Linked DNA regions of Homo sapiens. The protein of the gene in region 2 interacts with the protein of the main gene of each other region in a pairwise test. Each region holds a gene or a part of one and is shown on either strand. Other genes may lie near its edges.

Evidence for each region.
Region 1: the proteins of MSRB3 (region 2) and GPR37 interact in binary tests that used the Homo sapiens proteins (3 or more experiments, as listed by UniProt).
Region 3: the proteins of MSRB3 (region 2) and MED12L interact in binary tests that used the Homo sapiens proteins (3 or more experiments, as listed by UniProt).

What each region holds. Positions count from the first base shown.
Region 1 is NC_000007.14:124,742,987-124,748,792, forward strand, and holds the end of GPR37 (prosaposin receptor GPR37 precursor), read right to left. Parts: intron 4,358-5,806; coding exon 3,539-4,357; 3' UTR 899-3,538; downstream 1-898.
Region 2 is NC_000012.12:65,323,246-65,331,042, reverse strand, and holds part of MSRB3 (methionine-R-sulfoxide reductase B3 isoform 2 precursor), read right to left. Parts: intron 4,218-7,797; coding exon 4,109-4,217; intron 2,518-4,108; coding exon 2,440-2,517; intron 1-2,439. UniProt on the Homo sapiens protein: Catalyzes the reduction of free and protein-bound methionine sulfoxide to methionine. Isoform 2 is essential for hearing.
Region 3 is NC_000003.12:151,080,941-151,089,061, reverse strand, and holds the start of MED12L (mediator of RNA polymerase II transcription subunit 12-like protein), read right to left. Parts: upstream 3,399-8,121; 5' UTR 3,126-3,398; intron 2,408-3,125; exon of another isoform or gene 2,265-2,407; 5' UTR 2,136-2,264; coding exon 2,037-2,135; intron 1-2,036. UniProt on the Homo sapiens protein: May be a component of the Mediator complex, a coactivator involved in the regulated transcription of nearly all RNA polymerase II-dependent genes.

The sequences.
Region 1 (5,806 bases), on a different chromosome or scaffold from region 2:
ATTGCTCTCTTCAAGCCTTAATTTGATGTCATATTAGCAGTAAGATCTTCTTCATAACCCCACCTTACCCTGGTACTCCTTTCCTCCATGGTAATTTTCACTACCAAAAATGCTATGTATTCTAAAAACTATATACTATGTATTCTCCTTATTTATAGTGTCTGTCTGTCTCAACAAGAGAGGGCAAAGCTTCTTGATGTTTTGTTCACAGCTATATCACATGCACCTACAATGGTGTTTAACATATAACAGTACTCATTCAATAGTTGTTGAATAAATTAGCTGAGATATAATGAAAGAGCTGTTACTTAAAATGCCCTGCACTCAGTATCACTTGCTACGTTACATAACATACTAAAATCAATCTCACCATAATTCTTAAAGAAATGGATCTTTTATTCTAATTTTACTTTTATGAGAAATAAGGAACTGATGAGGAAAAAAGATTAGGGATACAGTTTTTAAAATAAGTATCAGCATTTTCTTAGAATTCAGTAACTTACATCTATAATATGGAACAATAAGGATTTGATCCTTTTCCTCTGTGAAGCTCTTCTTCCTACCTCTTCCCTCTCAACCACTGATCCCTCAGAGTACCACTTCACCTTTACCTTCCCACTATCACTCCATCTTTCTTGCTGCTTGAAGTCAAACATTCAAAGGCTTCAAAATTGTGGATCATCAAATAAATGTTAAATTGAGTTAATTATATCCAGTTATAGATATAGACATATATTTTGAAAATATTTTCATTGACTACCCTGAAACCACAAAAGTGTTACTGTTAAGTAACGAAAACGCCATTCCTAGCATTTTCTGATTAATCAAAATTTTACTGAACTTAATCTTAGATGTGAGTTTCTTTTTCTTTTTCTTTTTTTTTTTTTTTTGTTGTTTAACGAGGAGCGTAAGACATTGGATAAGATCCAGACTGAAGAAATGTTGAACAGAAATGATTAACAATTTTTTAAAAGTATATTATAGAAATTGGTTTTTGTGAAAAACACAAGACGACTATGAGAAAACTTTGAAATCACTTTATACTTGGGACAATTTGAGTTATCAAAGTTTCCACTTTGACAGAGGTAGGATTCAATAAGAAAGTACATGTTGCAACTACAAAAAGTTGAAAGGCAAGTATAAATGAAAAAAGAAATTTAAGTTCCTGCTGCCTCCATTGTGGTTCAATCTCTTATAATAGCTTCCTAGTTGCTTTTTCATGATCAGACTGTCCCCTACCAGCCTATTTAAACTGTTTGCAAGTTGATCTTCCTATTGCAGAGCTGGGATACTATTTCTCCATACTCAAAAACCTTAAAAGCAAAGCCCCATTTCCTGAAGCACCACCATGTAAACATCTTTCAAAACATGGTCCTATTATTAGATGGCCTTGGTGCATATTTTCTTTAATATTTCCCACAAGGCTGCTATGCACACGTAGCACAGAAGTCAAACTGGGCTGTTTATTCTTCAATCACACCCACTGATTTCTTCTTCTATTCCTTTATAAATTAGCTCTCTCCTCCTGAAGTGTCCACTCCTCACACCATCTTTCATCAGCTCCTTCTAAAAGCCCACTCATCCAGTTATCTCATAAAGCCTTTCATGCTCTCTTCTAACCCTATAAGCATTCCCTCTATTCCAAAGTATCGCAGAACTTCACATCTTCCTGAGGCACCTAACAAGCCCCAGCTTATATCATAGTTGTCTATGTATTTATTTTATTCCTTCCCATCCATGTCATCCCTGCCTGATTCTGTAAGGTCTGAGGCTGTGACCTATTTACCTTTAGTTACTCAGGTAATAGGATAGAATCTTTTCCACATGACATGCTCAATTGTTCCTTGATTTATAAAGTGACTAAATATCAGGAGAGACACTATGGAATCACAGTTGCTGTTCTGCTCAGCAGCCAAAACCTAGCTCAGGTGTCCTCTTGAGAAATTTTCCAAAGACCTATTACAGGGATCTACAAGAAGACAAGGGCACCTTGTTTGAATTCTCCTGCAGATCCCACAGAATACACACAATGGAGGGAAAAACCCCTTTGAAAAGTATTGGACTGGGAAAAAGGAGATAGCCTGGGCACTGCCATTTAAGTTTCACCTGCACCAATCTCTTTAATGATTTTTAAATAACATCATGTTATAATTTGGAAAAAGGAATACTGACTTACTTATGCCGAGTAGAACAGAAATCAACAAGCAGAAACTACGTTTTCCCAGCAAGAAAACTGGGTTCTCTATAACAAGATTTTTCTGAAGACAAAGACATCCAACTACACATCTTCTTTGGTAGCTTTTAAATATCACTGTGTCACTAGGTCATGGTCTCTGCCACCTGAGTTAGACATGTGTCCCACACAGCAAGCATCCTACACAACTGCTGCATTTTAAACTCCAGAAGAGGCAAAAGAGGGGATTCAAATATTCCCAATGGAGGAGGTTAGGTTTTTTTATTCAGAGTTTATGAAGTATCAAGTTAAAGGTAGAATGTTCTAATAAAAATATATAAATATTTTATTATTCCACTCCTATACTTTCATTGCACTTAAAGAAATTAAGTTGTATAGATTTCATCAAGTTTATTTTTCAAAAGGAGAAAAATTAGAACTCAGAGTGCTTTACGTAGGATTCACAAAGCTTCAAAGGTCAGTGTTCAGAGGAAATCAGATGACAACTGCATTTTAAAATTCTTGATTCTGCCCATAATTCCCCAAGGGAAAATCTGTAGCTCTATGTGCTAGTTCAGAGGTGAATTTTTTAAAAAAGAAACTTTCTTCCTACTCTGCTATTTATTCATATTTTATAAGTATTCAGAAGTAATTTGACATCTATACCTGAATATTAAAAATACAGCTTTGTTTTAACATACAACATAGTTTTATGAATCATGCATATAAAATACTGCTATTAGAAAAACTTCTTTATAACATAATGATTACCTGCCTTAAAAGAAAATACGTTATAAAACAGTAAGGCCGGTTTTAAATTGTGCATAGAACCAGTAATTGTATCTTTAAGGCAATTAGAAGATTTATTGAATATTGGTTAAAAGTAGATTGACAATGACATTAAAGAATAAAGTGTAATTTATTTGGTGCTACTTTGTGAATGCTTCCAAGTACAAATCATCTCACAATACCATATACAACATACTTTCAATCACAACTCAAATATAAAATAACCTACAAAATCACATTGCTATAATCAATATACAATAATTGTATTTTTAAAAGAAGAAAAAACGTTAGCAATTTTAAGTTAAGTTGCAGTAACTTTTTTCAAATAAAATATTAGCACCATACCAGATAAAATAATCTAAAACTATTGGCCTTCTCATTCTTCTTAAATAACTAAATAGAAACTTTTTTTCAAAGCACAAATATTAATTTGTAAAATCAGTTCTACAGTAGTTAATATTTCTTTCTTTATTGTTTCTTTTTTGCATTTTTCCCTATAAGGAAAAATATGAATTAAAAACTTTCACGGGATATGAAAATCAAACAAATAAATCTGACCCAACCAAGTACTGTCCTTCAGCAATGAGTTCCGACAGAAGCAAAAGTGGACATTTCACGGCGTATGGTACTGAAAGGCGAGAGTTCGAGTTCCGTGGTGTACTCGTTGTCATTGTCATCACTGGTCACCGTTGAAGACTTCTGAATGCATTCCTCACAGCAACAGCAGCAGCACTCCATGAAGGCCCGACTGAAGGGTTTGCAGAGACAGAAAAGGAGGACTGGGGTGACACAGGACTTAAAGAACAAAAGGAACTGGCTGATGATATTAAGGAGGTCCATTGTCTGCTGTGAAACCCCTGTAGCCATGTAGGCAGTAACAATGTTGCAGATATTTTCAGGAATAATGCAAAATCCATATAAAATGGTCAGTGCCACTACTGTACAGTTCATCTGACTCTCTAGTTGAATCTGCCGTTTATTCCCTCGGGTACAGGCTTTCTCTGCTTTGCGGATTTTCCTCGCAGTCACTAGAGAGCAGGTGATGGTGAAAAGCGTGGGCAAACAAAAGTAACAGCCAAAATACCACCACAGTCTCGCACTGTCGTAGGTGAGGGCTAGAACATAGATGGTGTCTGGTAAATCAGGAGAGATCTTAATAATGCACCTTTCTGCCGGAGCTCGGCCACTAAACCCCAAATCCTCCTTGCTCAGCTGGCGGAGAACAACTTCTGGAAGTGCTAACAATAGAGCTCCCACCCATATAACAGCAAGTTTGGCAGTTGTTGAGGAACAGTTTTCGATCATTTCGTAGTACATCTGTACGTTGGTGGCAGCACGGAAGCGGTCTATGCACAGAGCACATAAGGTGAAAGTGGTGACTCCCAGAGAAGCGACCTGTGGGGGAACATAGAAGACATTTATTCCCGGTGTCCCCCGAAAGATCAAAGCACTAGGAAATAAATGCAGATTGGCAAAACTGTAAAAAAAAATATGGATAAATAAAAATGAGAGAGAGAGAGAGAACAGTTTTCCAGAATGAGGCATGGGTAACTGGGCTCAGGACGTCAGCTGAATCATTGTAAGCATAAAAAAAGAAAACACACTGTAGTGGTTTGAGGGTCATGGAGTGCAGAACATTTAGGACTGGAAGGATCCATAAAGATCAGCTAGTCCAATCCCTTTTTATTATAGATCAGAACCCAGATACACTAAAAATTTTATTCACCACGAAAATGTCTGCCACTAGGAGATCTAGATAAGGAGTCAGGGTAGTGCAGAAATTCCCATTTTCATTGCTGACCAGGATGCTCATGTTTTCCAGTGTGAGGGTCAGTAGTGTGCCTTACACACAGCAAACACTCAAGAGCTTATTGTCTCCAATGGACTAAATGATTGGAGGGCTCCTCCAATTTTTCCTAAATGCAAAATAAAGTATTACAGTATTATTTTCAAAGGCATACACTTACGGAAAACAAGAAAGGGAAATTCTCCAGAGGCCAAAATCAAAAAGGAAACAAATTTCAAACAGGCCAGAGACCCCTCCCTCTTCATGCTGCGTGTTTGCCCTAGGGGCACCTGCCAATCCTGGTGAGGGTTTCAAGTTAGTTTTAGCTAGAAAAATGGGGCAAGGTGCCCAGGTGCACAGAGACAGGAAACAGAGCTGGGGCCAATGTGGGTGGGGATTGGGTCAAAGACTCCCTGTGAATTTGGAACTCCTCAAATGCTGACATCTTTAGAGGTGTAAAGGGAAAAAAGAGAGAGAGATAATGAAGAAATCTGCCTGGATGACAGGGTTTGGGTCTGGATGAACTGGGGGAAAAGGAGGGAAAAAAATGGCAAATTCTAACTGGGAGCCTGAACTTACATGGTGTTAGGATCAGAATTTCCAGGATCTACGTGGCTCAGAAAACCCAAAATACAATTTAAAATAATCCCAGGCACCTGGTTAAAATCAAACATAAATCCTCTCTGGAAGAATGCACTTTAAAACCAGGCCTCAAAAAATCCTATAGTTAAAATTCAAGGGACATGGGTTCACAAAATCAAAAGTCACAATATGCAAGAGACAATGAGCCACTATGAATTTATATGCCAAAGATACAGAATCAGACATAAGAAGTATATTTATCATAAAATAGGTATGTACATCAAATTTAAAGAAATAGGAGATACTAAAATAGAACATGTAAAAATACAAGAAAATATGCAGAAAATAGCCAAAAAGAATGTCTAGATATCCCAAACACAGGAAAATTTTGGAGCATAAAACTCTTTGACAATAACCACATGAAAAACTGTATTCAAAAAGGCACTGCTCTTATAAGCATATGGTCCAGACATCTA
Region 2 (7,797 bases):
GAAGTCCACCATATAATTTACAAAGCCAGTCCTCACTGTCAAATTAATCAACCAAATCGGATGTATTCTGTGTCCGAAAAAAAGACTTCCAATTATTTCGTTTTTGTTCATTTGAATAAAGATATGAATACATGTTCTCATGGCAGCCTTCTCACTTAAGTAGGCTAGTAGAAAATGAATGGACAGTCAGCAGATGGAGAGACAGACAAGCAGGCAGACAGGGAGGTGGACTGTGCTGTGCCAGGAGCCTTGCCAAGGTGAAATACGATTTCACTATTTTTTACCAACACTTTTTTAACCTTGCTTTCGAGTCTCTTTAAAGTTGCCGAACTGTCATTTTGTTTGATGCCCTGGAGATTGTACCCCAGGGCAATACATGGTAAGATTTGGGCTGGGTGAAAGGTATGTCATCTTTTGTGAGGTGGGAGAAGGGTGGTCATGATAGAGGAGATGGGAGGAAGACGCAGCCAACCACAGACTCTCAGACATATCAGTTTCAGGAAAGTACACATACAGAAGTTGGCACTAGACCAATGAGCTACTCGACTACATTCTCCAGTGAAGGATACAGCAAGGAATTTTTCCCAAAATAGACAAGAAAGCAAGTAAAAAAGAAGCAAACAATTAAAAGAAGAAAAAAGTAGAATGAAAGTATTAAATCACATTCCTTATAAATGTGGAAAATAAAAGCTCTCCTTGTAAGCACAGAAGTAGATGAAATAGAGGCAATATCACATCAAATGTGAAACCTGACTCCCACTAGCATCTATGTTTGGATAAGGGTCTTGCTTTTAGGATTTGTGACTCAAAAATCTCACAAGGGTTAAACCCTTCATTTACAGTGGTTCTGTTTCTTATTTAAAACAGTAAGTTTTCTTTAGATCCCATACTTTAGTGAATCACATGGTAGGGAAGGGGATGGAGAATCTGAATCAAAAAGTAAAGGGGATGTGGCCAATTTTTACCATTTGGGATATTAACAAGTTTAACATGGCTCAGCAACTATCTTAAGTGTTATATCAACTATTATGACATAAGCTAAAGGTGTTGAAACATTATATACGGAGTGTGTTTTCTGAGAGGAAATGGGTGACAATTTGAAGGGTCGGTTTTTTAACAGAAGGAATACGTAAGAATTCAGAACAGATTCTCAACCAATGGTAATGTTCAATAAGGTTTGTGCAATGTAAGAAACATTTTTTTAATTTCAAGGAAACCACTGTTTCCTGTTATTTCTGGAAAATCAGTAAATGCTGGTTTTTTAAAAGAGAAACATTTATGGAGAGATATTAAGTGTGTTTTAGCTACAAGTATCAGATCCTTGTTTATTTATTTCCCCTAAGAAACTCTGTAATTCCATTTTAAATAAATGACATTTACTTTTTTTTTTTTTTTGAGACGGAATCTTACTCTGTCGCCCAGGCTTGAGTGCAGTGGCACACTTGGCTGACTGCAACCTCCGCCTCCTGGGTTCAAGTGATTCTCCTGCCTCAGCCTCCCGAGTAGCTGGGACTACAGGCGCACACCACCATGCCTATCTAATTTTTGTATTTTTAGTAGAGATGGGGTTTCACCATGTTGGCCAGGCTAATCTCGAACTCCTGACCTCAAGTGATGCACCCGTCTTGGCCTCCCAAAGTGCTGTGATTGCAGGCCTGGGCCACCACACCCAGCCAATGACATTTACTCCCAATTAAGGTTTCTGCCTTTTTATTCCCCCAAGTCAGCAACCCATGGGAAGCATAGGGCTTCTAGAATTTTCTCCACCTAGATAAATAAGTTTTTGGTAAAGATTTCCCTTTCTTGAATAACATCCATAATCTCCAGAATACACTATCTGAATGAACTATTTTAGTCAGAAAGTCCAGTGTGCTGCCTGTTTTATGGTAAACTGTTGGGATCTTTAAAATAAAGATTTTGAATCTATGCAAAAACTGTTAACCTCATATTACATAATTTGCTTACCTATGTAAAGGTATGTTCCCATGTTACATTCAATACAGGTATTTCCCTTCATTGCAAAAGTATAATCTACTTGGTGGATTTTATTCAATGTGAAGTATATACATGAAGAACTTTTCATTATGTTCCAATAAATATTTAAGGCTGTCATTTGAAGATTTAAAAAATCAGTAAATGCATAAACATTTCTATGCTTGCCAAAATCTCTTTCACAGCTCTGCTAAGCACCATGGTTACTGACATGAACAAGTTAATGTTGGGTATTTTAAAGATCCAAGTAGTGCAAAATCAGCCAGTCTGTCACACTGGTAATTTACCATGAAATCAATAATTACTTTTGTTTTGTTGGGGGTAAATGGAAATAGAAAAACAAACAGAAGAAAATTCAGCAATGGAAAGATTCTAAGATGAAAAAGCAATAACTAGTTTGCTGCCATCTATGATACAGCCATACCTATAGGTTTTCAACATACTTACTTAAACAATGGAGTTCCACAAACAACACATTTATATATTCCAGGATCTTTGTGATGTGTGTATTCTCCTTCAAAGGCACTGATAAATAAACAGATCATTTAAAAAATTAAAGTTAGCATTATTTCTTACAGAATGTATTTGCTTAAAATATATTTCTCTAATAAATCTTTCAAGGGCTTTTTGTACTAGAATGAAAACAAACCAAACATATGGAAATCTGAACTTTACTAATATATTTCAAATCTATATAATAAAATGTGCATATAACTACTCCAAACTAGTGCAAGTTACATAAAAAAATCAAGCCATCTAGTTATGTAATGCTTAGAAAAAGATTTTTTTCTATTAAAAAAAAAAGCCTGTAGTTTAGATTCACAGAAAGAACATTACATAAGATTTTGCTACTTTACAGTGTGCAAGAGTATATACCAGAAAATGCAGAAGGGTCCAAGACTTCAAGTGGAAGGAGTCTTATTTTTTGGTTTGAAAAGGAATATTGCAGCTTTAAGGGAATATTTTTCTAAGTTAACAATCTTAAAGGCTAGGAGGTCATTCAGCTAATACAAATCAGCTGTGCTAGCCCAACAAAAAGTCTATGTGCTCTGCAGCTTGTTTTTATTATCCTTTCACCCTCTTTATGAGGTCCAAATTTTTTATAAACAGAATTTTTAAGAATGACCTAATCTCTGGTTGTTTGTGTGCATTAAATCATTTTGCTAGTCATGTACACAACAGAACGGATAGAAATCCTCGCAAGCTGAGACTGAAGTCCACTGCTAGCTCATTGTATGCTAAGGTTGGACTTCGTCAGAGATTCAACATTTGGTAAATTCAGTAAACAGTAGATACTGTGACAGGAAGAGAGTGTTGCCTGTTAACAGGGATCCCATGTGTAGTAGAGAGCTCTTTCAGTTCATGAATGAAAACAAGAAGTTACATCATTAATAAATTTGGATCAGAGGTAAGCTACGGTCTTACGCCAAGCTCCATGGTATAAATTAGACAACAAAGTCGTCGGACCTTGGCAAGTTACCTTTGAGCTGGAATCAGCTGAGAGAGGCTTTATTCACTAAAAACAGTCTTGGAAGTGAACAAACTCTTTTTTCAGGACTTAGGGCGAACTTCCAAGGACCAAAGCCATGTGAGGGCAGTTATTGAAAATTTTTGACATTCCAACCACAAATGAGCCAATAAATACTTTCTCCACATGTGCTTCAAAAAGAAATTGGAGTTGGGTAGAAAAGAACTAAATTATGCTACCTTCTTTTTGCAGCCAAAACGTCTATACTTACAATGGCCACCTTCAAAATTTCAGCATCCTGGCATAGTGCCAAGTCCCTCATGGTTTTGCTTACTGTGATGTCTTCCCAAAAAATGTACCTAAATCGCTGTTACTTCCACACATTTTGTAGTAAACTAAAAACAGGCCCTTAACAAAAGCTTTGTGACTTTATATCAGATATGCAGTATTCATTAAATGGAGAAAAGAACAAATAAAACTTAGTCTTAACCTAAACAACACCATTTTAACCTTTTCAAGGATACTAATTCATAGACTTTAGCAAGTAAGTATAGAATGCTTTAAATTAATTGGCAAGGAAAAGCACTGCAGAGGGCAGGGGGAGAAGAAATCTAGCTCTTAATGACTTTTTATTAAAGCTCACCTTACCTTTCGGTCCCTTTCTCCTGAGTGACATGGTACTGCAGGGGTGTTAGCCGCTTCCTCAGTTCCTGCTGGGAAAAGACCACCTTACAGTTCTTTTTATCCCTACACGACCCTGAAAAGAGAGAGGATATGGGAGAAGAAGCCTTTTTAGCTTGAATCCTAAATAATTGCTTTGGCTGACCGCCACAGCACAGCTTCTGCAGTCACTTGTCAATGACCAGACCAGTCTCTAATGCACTGGAAATGCTTACCTGAACTGCAGCTGATTATTTCTCTACGTTTAAAATGAATGTTTCTTAAGATTCAGATGATTCCACTGGAGCAGTGACAATATGCTACAGCCAGTCTCTAGCATGTGATACTAAAAATTCACTGATCATTCACAAGGTACATGCTTTATAACTCCCAGTATCCTGAAACCCTTTTTTTTTCAAATAAATTCAAAAGCATAAGTCTATTTACAAACATTTATACTGTATATATAAAATGATGGGCATATTATGTTAAACCGTAAGTCTGCAATAATTTTGCAACTTAGTAGAATAGCCTGAAACCATCAAAATTCCATTTCCATTGTGGATGATTTAACTACCATCCTATTTTTGAGCCCTAAAAATATATTTTTCTATGACCAGGAATTACTGTTCTCCATGATTCCATCAGAAACTTCACTAGATTCTGTATACTCCTTCAAAGTATAAAGATTCTGTATATCTCTTCAAAGACTGTATCTTACCATGTTAAATGGGCAGCAAGAAACTTTCAATAAACTACAGGAGAAGGCATTTTCACTAATGCAGATTCAAGAAGTTCCAAAGAAAGAGTGGGAAAAACAGAAAGGGAGAAAGACAAAGAAAAAAGGAAATGTGAATATTTTTAGAAACCTACATTTTCTTTTTGCAAAGTATATCTAGGAAGACTTTACTGATTAACTGTATTTGAATGGTGAAATAATTCTAATGTGATTCTAATAACAATGGCAGCTTTTATTTCAACCTATACAGCCTGCAGTAAAATGTTCAGACAACACCTGTTTATATGTAGTATTTTATTTTACATGAGCAAATGACTGAAAAGAAATATAACTCCAGGACAGGGTAGCCATTACTCACTGCAGTAAAATTGCTTTTCTTTGCCATCCATCACAGTGGGAAAGAGGCCTGCAGATGGTCCTAAATGTAGAGAGTTCTTGCCATGTTTTGAAGTTACTAGAAGAAAGCTTGCTTAGTTTCCCAAATACTAAACGCAACTTCTTTTGAAATATAAAGAAATATGATTAGGAGTGGAAATGCTTCCCGTTTTTTTTACGTTCAAGGTACCTAATGTCATAGTATGAGATCGCTGACCTTAAACTAGGAAAATATTGTCTAGCCGGTTACCCTGACTGTGGTGTTGAAGAAGGATATCAGCTTGCAGAATCCGGGCCACCAAGATAGAGCGGTTGATTCTCCACAAGAGAAAATGGAGGCAGCAAAAGAGCAAGCCAGACCCAAAGAGCAAGATACACCTTGGAGTGGGCCTGCAGGTTGTCAGACAGCACCTCTGCTGACCTTCCACAAATACTTCAGCCCTTCCCTGGCCTGCAAAGATCCACAGGCACAGCAGGCATGTCACTAATGGCATGTTGATCTCTCATCTCACTGGACCCCGTCTTATCCTAGGCTTTATCCAAATACCTACTACTTGTATTTTTGCTGTTATCAACGGTTAGGTAGAAATGTTTCCCTGAGAAATGTCTGTCCTATCAGAACAAGCCTCTCAATAGCTTGAATGCAAAGTGGCTCTTTCTTAAATAATCAGTCAACAGTGATAGGTGAGTTTCTGCTTAATTCAGTACAGACTTCTTAAAAATTATTTTATTCTCATGTGTTTGTTGGAAGGGTTGTATCTTAGTTAATACTGTCACAAAATCATTAAATGCAAACTTAACATGACAAAATGACTTGGTTAAAATTATTCTTTTCAATGGCATAATTAAAATATGTACAATTAAAATCAAACAATTCTATCCAAAATATTTTTGTTAATATACGTTCATTCATACAAAAAGACCAATTGTGTTCCCAAAGTTGAGAGAACTAAGCTACCCATCTGTATGTCATTTAGTACAAGAGAAGCAACTGCAGGTTTAAATTACATGGTATTGGATTGCAATTTCCTAACATTGGATGCTTTTCTGCCTTTTTACCTTGAGTCATTTACTAAGGAGTGTTCATAAAAAGTAGCTTAAAGCACAGATGCTTGCAAATCATTTAGGCAAAGATGTTTCTCTCTTTTTCATTCTCCCTCTCTCATGAATCTCTCTTTTCCGAAGAGAATAAAACCGTTGGTCAGTATTGATGAACCATGTCAAGTATTTGTACAAGAAAAAAAGGTAAAATTGAAAACATCTGATTGAAGTAAATAATACAAACATAAAAGCTTTACTAGTGAATGAAGGGTATTGAAGAGACTTTATTTCATAGATTAGAAATTACTTTTGATCTAAACATTCTTAAAAACAGATTGTTTTCCACTATGAAACATCTCATTAACTGTGCTACAGAGACCTCGTTTTAATGGCAAGCCTTGAAAGAGTGCTGCTGTACTCCTTTGTTAGTCTCCGTCTTATTTGGGAGGGGAATAAAGATTTCATTCCAGCTTTCTTTGTTTGTCTTTCAAGAACCACTAAAGCAGTATTCACACAAATTTTGTAGGAATGTGCCCTATGTCATAGCCTACAAATTATTTGGTTTTGGTGCACTTAAAGGTCATCTTCCAAATTAGCAAAATTTTTTTACATCCTGGCTTTTCAACCTTAAGTATAAATATTGTTTCCTAACTGTAAGTGAGGTTTGTCCTTTAAGAAATACTAGTGATTATTTAAAGTTGTCAAACTTTGTACATTTTCATTCTTTGGTTATACTATATTCTCAAAATAATTAGGTTTTCAAAGTATATCTAATACCAAAAGGAAATATATGTAGACTAGAAACAACTATTGTGATTTTACATTAAACAATTCAATGAGAAGTTGGTCAGATTTTAATAAATATCTTGCCACACCATTTAATAATAATAATATACTTCCTGGACAATTTAAAGCTATACTATTACATTAGCCCTTCTATCATCAGAACCAAATATTGGTATATATAAACACAGAAAAGCTTCACTTTTGTCTCTTATTTCCCTTCTCCCTATCAGACTCACTTTTCTAAAGTCATATGGTGCCACTGTTAATCTTGAAAAAATCATTTCATTTTGAAATTCTGGAGTAATTCATTGGATGGTTTCCCTTTACTATCTTCACTTAGGTACTGTAATTTTCTTATTACACAGGGTAATTTAACATTAGTATTATATGACATCTGTTCAATGACCTCTAAATTGGCTTAGAAGTATGTTTGGGAAAGATTTTTCCCTTTATTTAAATGTTTAATAGTGTCTTTTGAAGGCACAAGTGAGTGTGTGTGTACACACATGTAACACAATTACATATTTGAGGAGATAATATTGCCATTTTGGTATCTAATCATAACACCGTTCCTTACAGAGTAACTTTGAGATAGATCAGTTCCATCTTGAACATAGTCCAAGGATATTTTATTTATTGAAATATGTCCAAAGTCTCTTTTTATAGCGAAGCTTGTCCTGTGTTGTTGCCTCAAGGCCAGTATTGTTTCGAAGCCCCAGTATGAAGCTCTTGCTAT
Region 3 (8,121 bases), on a different chromosome or scaffold from region 2:
ATCTTGAGGGAGGTAGGACATAAATAACTAAAGCTTAGGAAACTCTACTCACCAACCACCCAAGAACAGCCAAGCACCTGTTCCATATTGTACCCAAATTTGGCTACAGCCACACATAACTCTGTCTGCTTGGGAGAGTTAAAACATTGGCTGCCTTGGGGGAAAGGGGATAACATCAGAAGATAATTTAGCATAAATCATCCTCAAAGCAGTATTAGTTTTGACATAAATACTGGTTTGGTGGTACAACTCCTCTGCTTATTCACCTATACACCTTGGTTAAACGAGTCAAGCTTTCCCAGGCCTGTTTCACTTAGTCAAAAGGAAGTTATAGAAAGTAGTCCCTAAGGTCGCTTCCAGTTTTAGAACTCCATAAAATGTTGTGAGACCCTGAAATCCAAAATTACTCTTTCCAGAATCAGAGGCCCCAGTCGTGAAATGAGCATTGGCCTGAAGAACAAATGCTAAATAAGCCCACACAGCACCCCAAGCCATCATGCCATCAATTATGCTGCCCTCTGGAAAGACAGAGTAAGACATTAATTACAAGATGATAAAGTTCAACCAACAAAATATCCCTGTCCCTATCAAAACTTTAAGAATTTCCTCCCAATAATTTTTAAGCTATTAACTGTACACTTGATCCTCAGCTTCTCTATTATTTCCAGTCCTTAACCATTAACTTCATTCTAAGTTGGGGTAGCAGGGTGGGGTAACGGGTAGGAAAAAAAATCTGGGAAATCTTCTCAAACCTCTACCATCCTGTAAAGCTGGTGCTGGAAACCACCTGTAAAACCTTCCCAGCTTTCATCTGCGTGACTCCACTGATGCTAGAGCATATTTAGTGTGCTAAACCTCTAAAAGGAGTTGCTGTTCCTTACTTCTCAGACACTTTATAAGCAAGACAGTTTAGCCAGAACAAGCACTTACTCTCCTAATGAAAGATACACTTATCAAAAGGAAAGTCTTAAGGACCCCTCCTTGCCTGGTTTACAAGGCCCTTTCTGTGCTATCAGTGGGCCCACAAACTTTTAATGGAGGGTTTTTAGATTCTCAGAAAGGTAAGTTTTGAAATATGGTCAGTTCGTGTTTAGCTGAACAGAAGATGGGTGGACTGCAGCTGGCAAACTCAGAAAGCACTGCTGGGTAGCAGGTGATCAAAAAAAAAACAAAAAAAAGGCAAGTCCCTGGGCAAATGGTGTAGCCAAAGGTGATCATTATAACTAGAGACTTGTTACATAATTACTTGTTAACTCCTGACAAACAGATACACAGCTACAAAATGCCATGGTTACCCTAGCCATTGAAGCTAATGTAGCTGGTGCAAGAGTCAAGGTGTCTCCAATTAATCTCATTCAAAGAAATAAGCAATCCTGGGAACTATTCCCTCCCAAGGTAACTCGCCTGCTTTTACGTATACAAAACAGCCTCTAGCAATTAAGCCCATTGCCTCTAGAGACGAAAATCAGTGTTTCTCCTTAATTTTAATTTTTAAAGGGCAGAAGGGTTACAGAGGTATATTCAGAGAGCTAAATATTTATCACTTCGATAAAAACGACTTCCATTCCAAACTGGAAAATTTGAAAAGCTTCCCCCTCACCTTCGTCCCTGGCCAGCAAAAGCAAAACGCAAGACCTCAGTGTAGGATGCACTGCATTCCAACATTTTTCAAAAAGTTTACGACGATTTACCGAAGCGGCAAGAAGAAAAATAAAGCAGGCAGAAACGGGTGAGAGCGAGCAAGGTTTCGGCAGGGAAGAAGCCCGAGAAGCGCCCGGCGGCGCCGTGCAAGGCCCGGCAACGGGAAAGCGACCGGCACATGGAAAGCGAGCGCCCCAGTGGAGCGCGGGGACTGACAGCCGCTCGGTCTCCGCCGCCGGGGGGTCGCCCAGCACCCCCAGCCTGGCCCCCGCCTCTAATCCCCCTCCCCGACCTCTTCCACCGCAGCGCCGGCGATGCCCGCTGGGCCAACTTGGCCCCGGGTCAGTGCTGCAGAGCGCGGCCCCGGTTGCCGGGGAGGCCGCCGGCGCCCTTACCTCCTTCTGCTTGGGGTCCTGTGGGTAGACGTCGGGCGGCCCGAGCCGGGGGCGCTTCAGCGGTCTCTGCTCATAGCTGAGAAGCCCGAAGGCGGCCATGATCTCTCATGTTAACCGGCGAAATGAATGAGAGTTGGAGCTGGAGCAGCCGCCTCTGAGCACCAGGGAGCAGCACTTTGCAGACAGACTCCCTCTCTCCCCCTCCTCGCTCGCTCGCTCGCTGTGGCGCTGCAGGCAGGAGGAATAAAGCAGGTTGGATGCTGCCGCTGCCCGGCAGCAGACACGCACTGATGGGGACAGCCTTCGGCGGGTACTCGGCTGCGCTCGAGCCCCGGGACGCACCGCTCCGGTGGCGGCGGCGGAGGGACTAGAGGTCGGCCAGGGTCCTCCGCGGCGCCTGCCTCCTCTGCTCCCCCCTACCTTGTCTCCAGGGGGAGGAGCAGCTGATGGGAACGTGTGACTTTTTTCACCAATGGACCCAAACCCACCCCAGCTGGGCGCAGGATGGGGGTGGGGGTGGGGCACTGGAAAAAAAAAAAAAAAAACTTTTCTTGGCGCCTAGGCTGGTGGCTGAAGTGCTCGCCCAAGGCGAGGGTGGCCCTCCCCTCCCGGGAAGAAGCTGTGGAGCGGACCGCCCCCGCCTCTCTTCCCCGGCAGGGACCCTTCCCCCGCCGCCACGCGCCCCGCAGACCCCGCCACCTGGACACGGACCGGGCCAGTGCAGGCAGAGGCAGGTCTGGAGGGGGCGCGAGACGCAGGGATGCGGCCGGTGGGAAGCGGCCGGTGCCTCCTAGACGCCCGCCAGGTTCCAGTGGCGCATCCGCAGCTACGGTCCCCTCGGCGGCTCCGGGCAGGCGCCGAGGCGCGCTGCTGGCGGTCGCGGCGGCTGGAGGGGGCCGTGCTCACGGTGGCGTGGGGCCGACTTAACCCTTTACAGTCCCTCCAGGGGCTGGGGAAGGGGGTGAGGAGCGATGGCTGTGAGCGCCGACGGGGGCAGCCAGCCCGCAGGCGTCTCGGGCTCCTCCAGCCCGCCGCCTCCCCACGGCCCCAGCTCCTCTTCCCTTCCGCCCCCAACCCCCAACACTTTACCTGTTGGTCCGCGGCTAGCGGGCTGGGGCTGGCGGCGGCGGGGTCACTCCGGCCGCCGCAGCCTCCATCATTCGGGTTGGGATGGGGGACTTGGATTTGATTTTATTTGTGCGGTATCTGCCTCGCCCGGACGAGCTCCGGGAACGCCGCGAAGTTTGCCACTGTCTGGGGGCGGCGAGCGACGCCGGCTCGCCGCCGGCGTTCTCGCCCCCACGGCCCGGGAGCGCGAGCTTCCGAGTTGGCGGACGGCGGCGCGGCGTCCGCACTGAGCATGCCCAGCTCGGCGGCCGGACCGCGGAGGAGTTGGCTGAGAGCGCGGTGAGCGCGCTCCAATCCGCCTCTCCGGGTTTTCGCAGCCGCAGAGCGCGCAGCCCGCGGGCCCCGGCGCCGAGGCTGGCCCTGGGGTGAACCTGGGCGAGGGAGGGAGCGCCCTCTGGAGCCCTGCTCCAAGCCCCCCGCTGCACCCTCCGCCTCGACCTCCCCAGAGGTCGCGGTCCCCGTGGCCTGGGCCGAAAACCTCACCTGCGCCGGGAGCGTGGAAGGGGCGGGGGGGGTGATCCTCCAGGGCAGACCTTGGTCATCCAACCCGCCCTCGCTCCTCGCTTCGGGGCGCGGGCACCAAGATGCTGGGCCACCTGGCGCGAGCTCTGCGAGACCGGAGCCGCGGAGGCGGGCTCGGCCTGTCCTGAGGGACCCCGCGGGAGGCGTGCCCGGGAGAATGCGCCCGCACTTGGCCAAGAATGATGGCTGCCATTTATGGAGCCTTCGCTACGTGCCAGGATCTTGATAGTCAGAATCTCTGGTCCTTACAACCTTCCACGGTCTTACTGTACCCTTTTTATGGATGGAGAAATTGAGCCAGCTCAGAGAGGACCACTCACTTGCCGAAAGCCACGAAACGAGTCGGAATTTGAACCCACGACTGATTCTAAGTTTCTGACCTGTTTTCCCTGACTTGGACTTGGAGGGACTGGGTTCCTAACCTGTCCTTGCCTGATGGACTCACGTTCTCCACGGCTTGAGGCATTCTCGGCCTTCCCTCTCTGTAAGGTGGTAAAGGCAGATTCTAACCGGAAGCCTTTGATACATAGTAGGTGCTCTGGAAATGCTGGTTGAATCTGAACATCAACTTTGATGTTCGTTGACATTTAAGCAAAGGGGGAAGAAGGAGATAAATAAAGTGAAGGTAATGTGGTAGAGGCTAGTTCCTCACTCCTGATCCTGACCTGTGAGCACCTCCAAACCCAGTTTGAGGCTGAGTCAGGTGTTTAGCTTTTGGCTTCCTTAATCTGAACAATTACTTCTAGAGAGCATTTACCTAACTTCACTGGAGGGCATTTCCTGACCACCTTCCCCATCTTGCCCCAGGGTCTTCTCTTCCACTAATATCCTGGGATTAATTTCATGGCTGGACTTGCCCTTGTGATACAGGCATCTATCAAATGTAGCTCCCTTGTTTGAAAGAAAGGACAGTTTTTTGTTGTTGTTGTTTTCTTTGTTTGGTTGGTTGGTTGTTTTTTGAGACAGAGCCTCGCTCTGTCGCCCAGGCTGGAGTGCAGTGGCGAGATCTCGGCTCACTGCAAGCTCCGCCTCCTGGGTTCACGCCATTCTCCTGCCTCAGCCTCCCGCGTAGCTGGGGCTACAGGCGCCCGCCACCACGCCCGGCTAATTTTTTTTGTATTTCTTTTTTTTAGTAGAGACGGGGTTTCACAGTGTTAGCTAGGATGGTCTCGATCTCCTGACCTCGCAATCCGCCCACCTCGGCCTCCCAAAGTGCTGGGATTACAGGCGTGAGCCACCGCGCCCGGCCGAAAGGGTTTTTTTTATTATCTAACTTTATTAGGGAAATTATTAAACATACAAAAAGCTGAAGAAATCATATAAGGAGCCCTCAAATATTCATCTCTCAGCTATAAAAATTAAAGTTACTATTTTTGTTTCATCTTTCTCCCCCATTCCCAACTCACTGACATACACTAGTAAGGACAGTTTTACTCATTGTTGCAACTCAGAAACACTGTATGGGACCTGACACATGGTGAGCATTCAAAAATGTTGGCTTATGGAATGGATGATAGGTAGGCGATGTGTGGATGGACTGATGATTGCATCATTAGTGGTACTTTGGGAATAACAGCCTGCGCTGCTACTGAATCAAACACCCCTAGTTTGGGGGAGAAATGTAATCTCAGTTCTTCCCTTGGGATGCCTAAGCAAGCGCCTCCAACTGAAACACTTTGAAGCACTTAAAATCTTATCTGCCCATAAGAATTTTATCTTAAAATCAAAATGTGTCAGTAGTGTGCCCCTGGTGTTTGGGAAGAAGGGAAAATAATAGCCCTCTCCCTGTTGTTGTCCCTTCTTAACTCCCTCTCCTGAAACAGTCTGGCATGAATTCCTTGACCCTCTCAACACAAAATAAATAAATATTGAAAACTTTAATATGCTTAGAAGCTTCCCCTAGGAATCATTATTTTACTGCATGGATTTCCCATGGGCATTTGGCTCCTTACCCTGGGAAATCTTTGTAATCTACCCCCTACCTAGCAATTCAGCTTTTTCTCCTTAACCTCTTGCCCTAGTTAGCTTCCTTTCCTAATATGGAATTCCCAGGCTCTTCATCTTCAAATACTCACCTCTACAGTCCTCAGAGTACGGATTCCTGTACAAAGCCCCTTCAAATTCCCCTGGCAAAAGGTGATCTTTTGGCTTTTTAGTGCCCTTAGCACTTAATTTTTATTATCTTAACACTTATTTATTGGCATGCATTTGAATGTGTCACACAGAATAGTCTTGTTGCCTCATTCTCACCTTTTCCTCCTGGTCCCCTTCTTCCATTCCAGGTCTTTAAGCAGACTAAGATCAGCTCATCATGATGGGCTTAACCTGTAACCCACTGTGTTCTATACAGTGCTTGAATTTCCCACGTGGTGCTGGTTAATATAGCAGGCAAACATTCTCGTTGAATAATGTGGGTTCTAGCTGATACTGTTCCTAAGGGGTATTTTATCTTTACCTAGCTAATGATTCCCTGGGACCAGGAAAAATTTGCATGGAACAGAAATTAGAGAAGACCAGAGGCTCCCCAAATAGGTCCCAGCCTTGAACCTCAGCCTAGCAAGAAGGGATGAGTTCAGGTTCCTAAGGAAGTTTTGTATAGCTATCCAGGGAAATGGGGTTGAAATGTGGCTGGAGAAAGGTGAATGAATTACAAACCATTTTAAGCATATGGTGCTATATCCTCCAAGTATAAAGCTGAGTCTTCACTGCTGCTTTTGAGGGTTACCAGGTATTTAAAAGTTGACCCTTTTTCTTGGGTCACATTCAAGGGTTTCTCAAAGATTCCCTAACTGCTTATGTTCCCTCTGAAAGCCCTGATTTTCAGCATTCTGCAAGGAGTCCCTCACAGTTGGTATCCATTTGTGCTTTTGGGCAAATCCCTTCAATATAGCTCATGGCTGGCTTTCTCTCCCTACATTTGGTCTGCCAGAAATACACAAATGTCCTTTGCCTGTACATACGCTAGTGCAGGCATTTTCTAACCAGCCTTCTGTCCTTGCCCACCATGAACACACTCTGCAAGCCACAATTCTCCACCTTGAAAGTTCAATAGTCTAAATCGGAGACCAGTTCCTCAGGTTCATCCAAACTGCAGAGGATGAATGTCAAATGCTCAGGTCAGTGACCCTCTCAAAAAGTTTGAAGTGAGGAATAAAATTTCTTTGGTGAAAGGCAGAGACACAATCATTTGCAGAGAAGTTGTTTTTTGTTTTGTTTTGTTTGTTTGTTTTGTTTTGTTTGAGACAGAGTTTTGCTCTGTCACCCAGGCTGGAGTGCAGTGGCGCCATCTCTGCTCACTGCAATCTCCACCTCCCGGATTCAGGCGATTCTCCTGCCTCAGCCTCCTGAGTAGCTGGGATCACAGGTGCATGCCCCCACACCTGGCTAATTTTTGTATTTTTAGTAGAGATGGAGTTTTGCCATGTTGGCCAGGCTAGTCTCAAACTCCTGGCCTCAAGCGATCCACCCATCTTGGCCTCCCAAAGTGCTGGGATTACAGGCATGAGCCACCGCACCTGGCAGCAGAGCAGATTTTTTAAATGAGAGTGAAGAATGGCTAGGAGCAGAGGCAGGATGTTTACCCATCAGAAACTGTGGTCCTGGCTGGGCATGGTGGCTCACACATGTAATCCCAGCACTTTGGGAGGGCCCAGGTGGGTGGATCACTTGAGGCCAGGAGTTCAAGACCAGCCTGGCCAACATAGCAAACAAAAAATTAGCTGGGCGTGGTGGTGCATGCCTGTAGTCCCAGCTGCTTGGGAGGCTGAGGCAGGAGAATCGCTTGAATCTGGGAGGTGAAGGTTGCAGTGAGCGGCGGTCACCCCACTGCACTCCAGCCTGGGTAACAGAGACTCTGTCTCAAAAAAAGAAAAAAGAAAAGAGAAAAGAGAAGGGAAGGGAAGGGAAGGAAAAGGCAGGGGAAGTGGGAGGGGGAGGGGGAAGGGGGAGGGAAGGGGAGGGGAGGGGAGGGGAGGGGAGGGGAGGGGAGGGGAGGGGAGGGAAGGGAAGGGAAGGGAAGGGAAGGGAAGGGAAGGGAAGGGAAGGGAAGGGAAGGGAAGGGAAGGGAAGGGAAGGGAGTGGTCCTACTATTCCTATTCCTATTTTACAGATTAGTAGGTAGGGCTCCAGAGGTGAAGCTGCTGTTCCCAGGCCATTGAGTTAGCGACTAGCAAAGCCAGAATCAAACCTAGAATCTCTCTGACTCCCAAACTTATGCTTATTATTGTTGTCAATGTGTTACATGTATTAATTATCATTTACATAACACATAAAGGTGAGCCTTTGAAGACAGTTCTGGTATAAGAGAAGCAAAACTCCTGACAGCTCACTCTGGCATAGCAGCACAATTCCACTCAAGTGGAAAGAAACAATTCTCAGTGTAGTGCCTGTAGGTAAAGTAATTAAAGTTGCTAGCTTTCCTCATGGGATTGTTGCG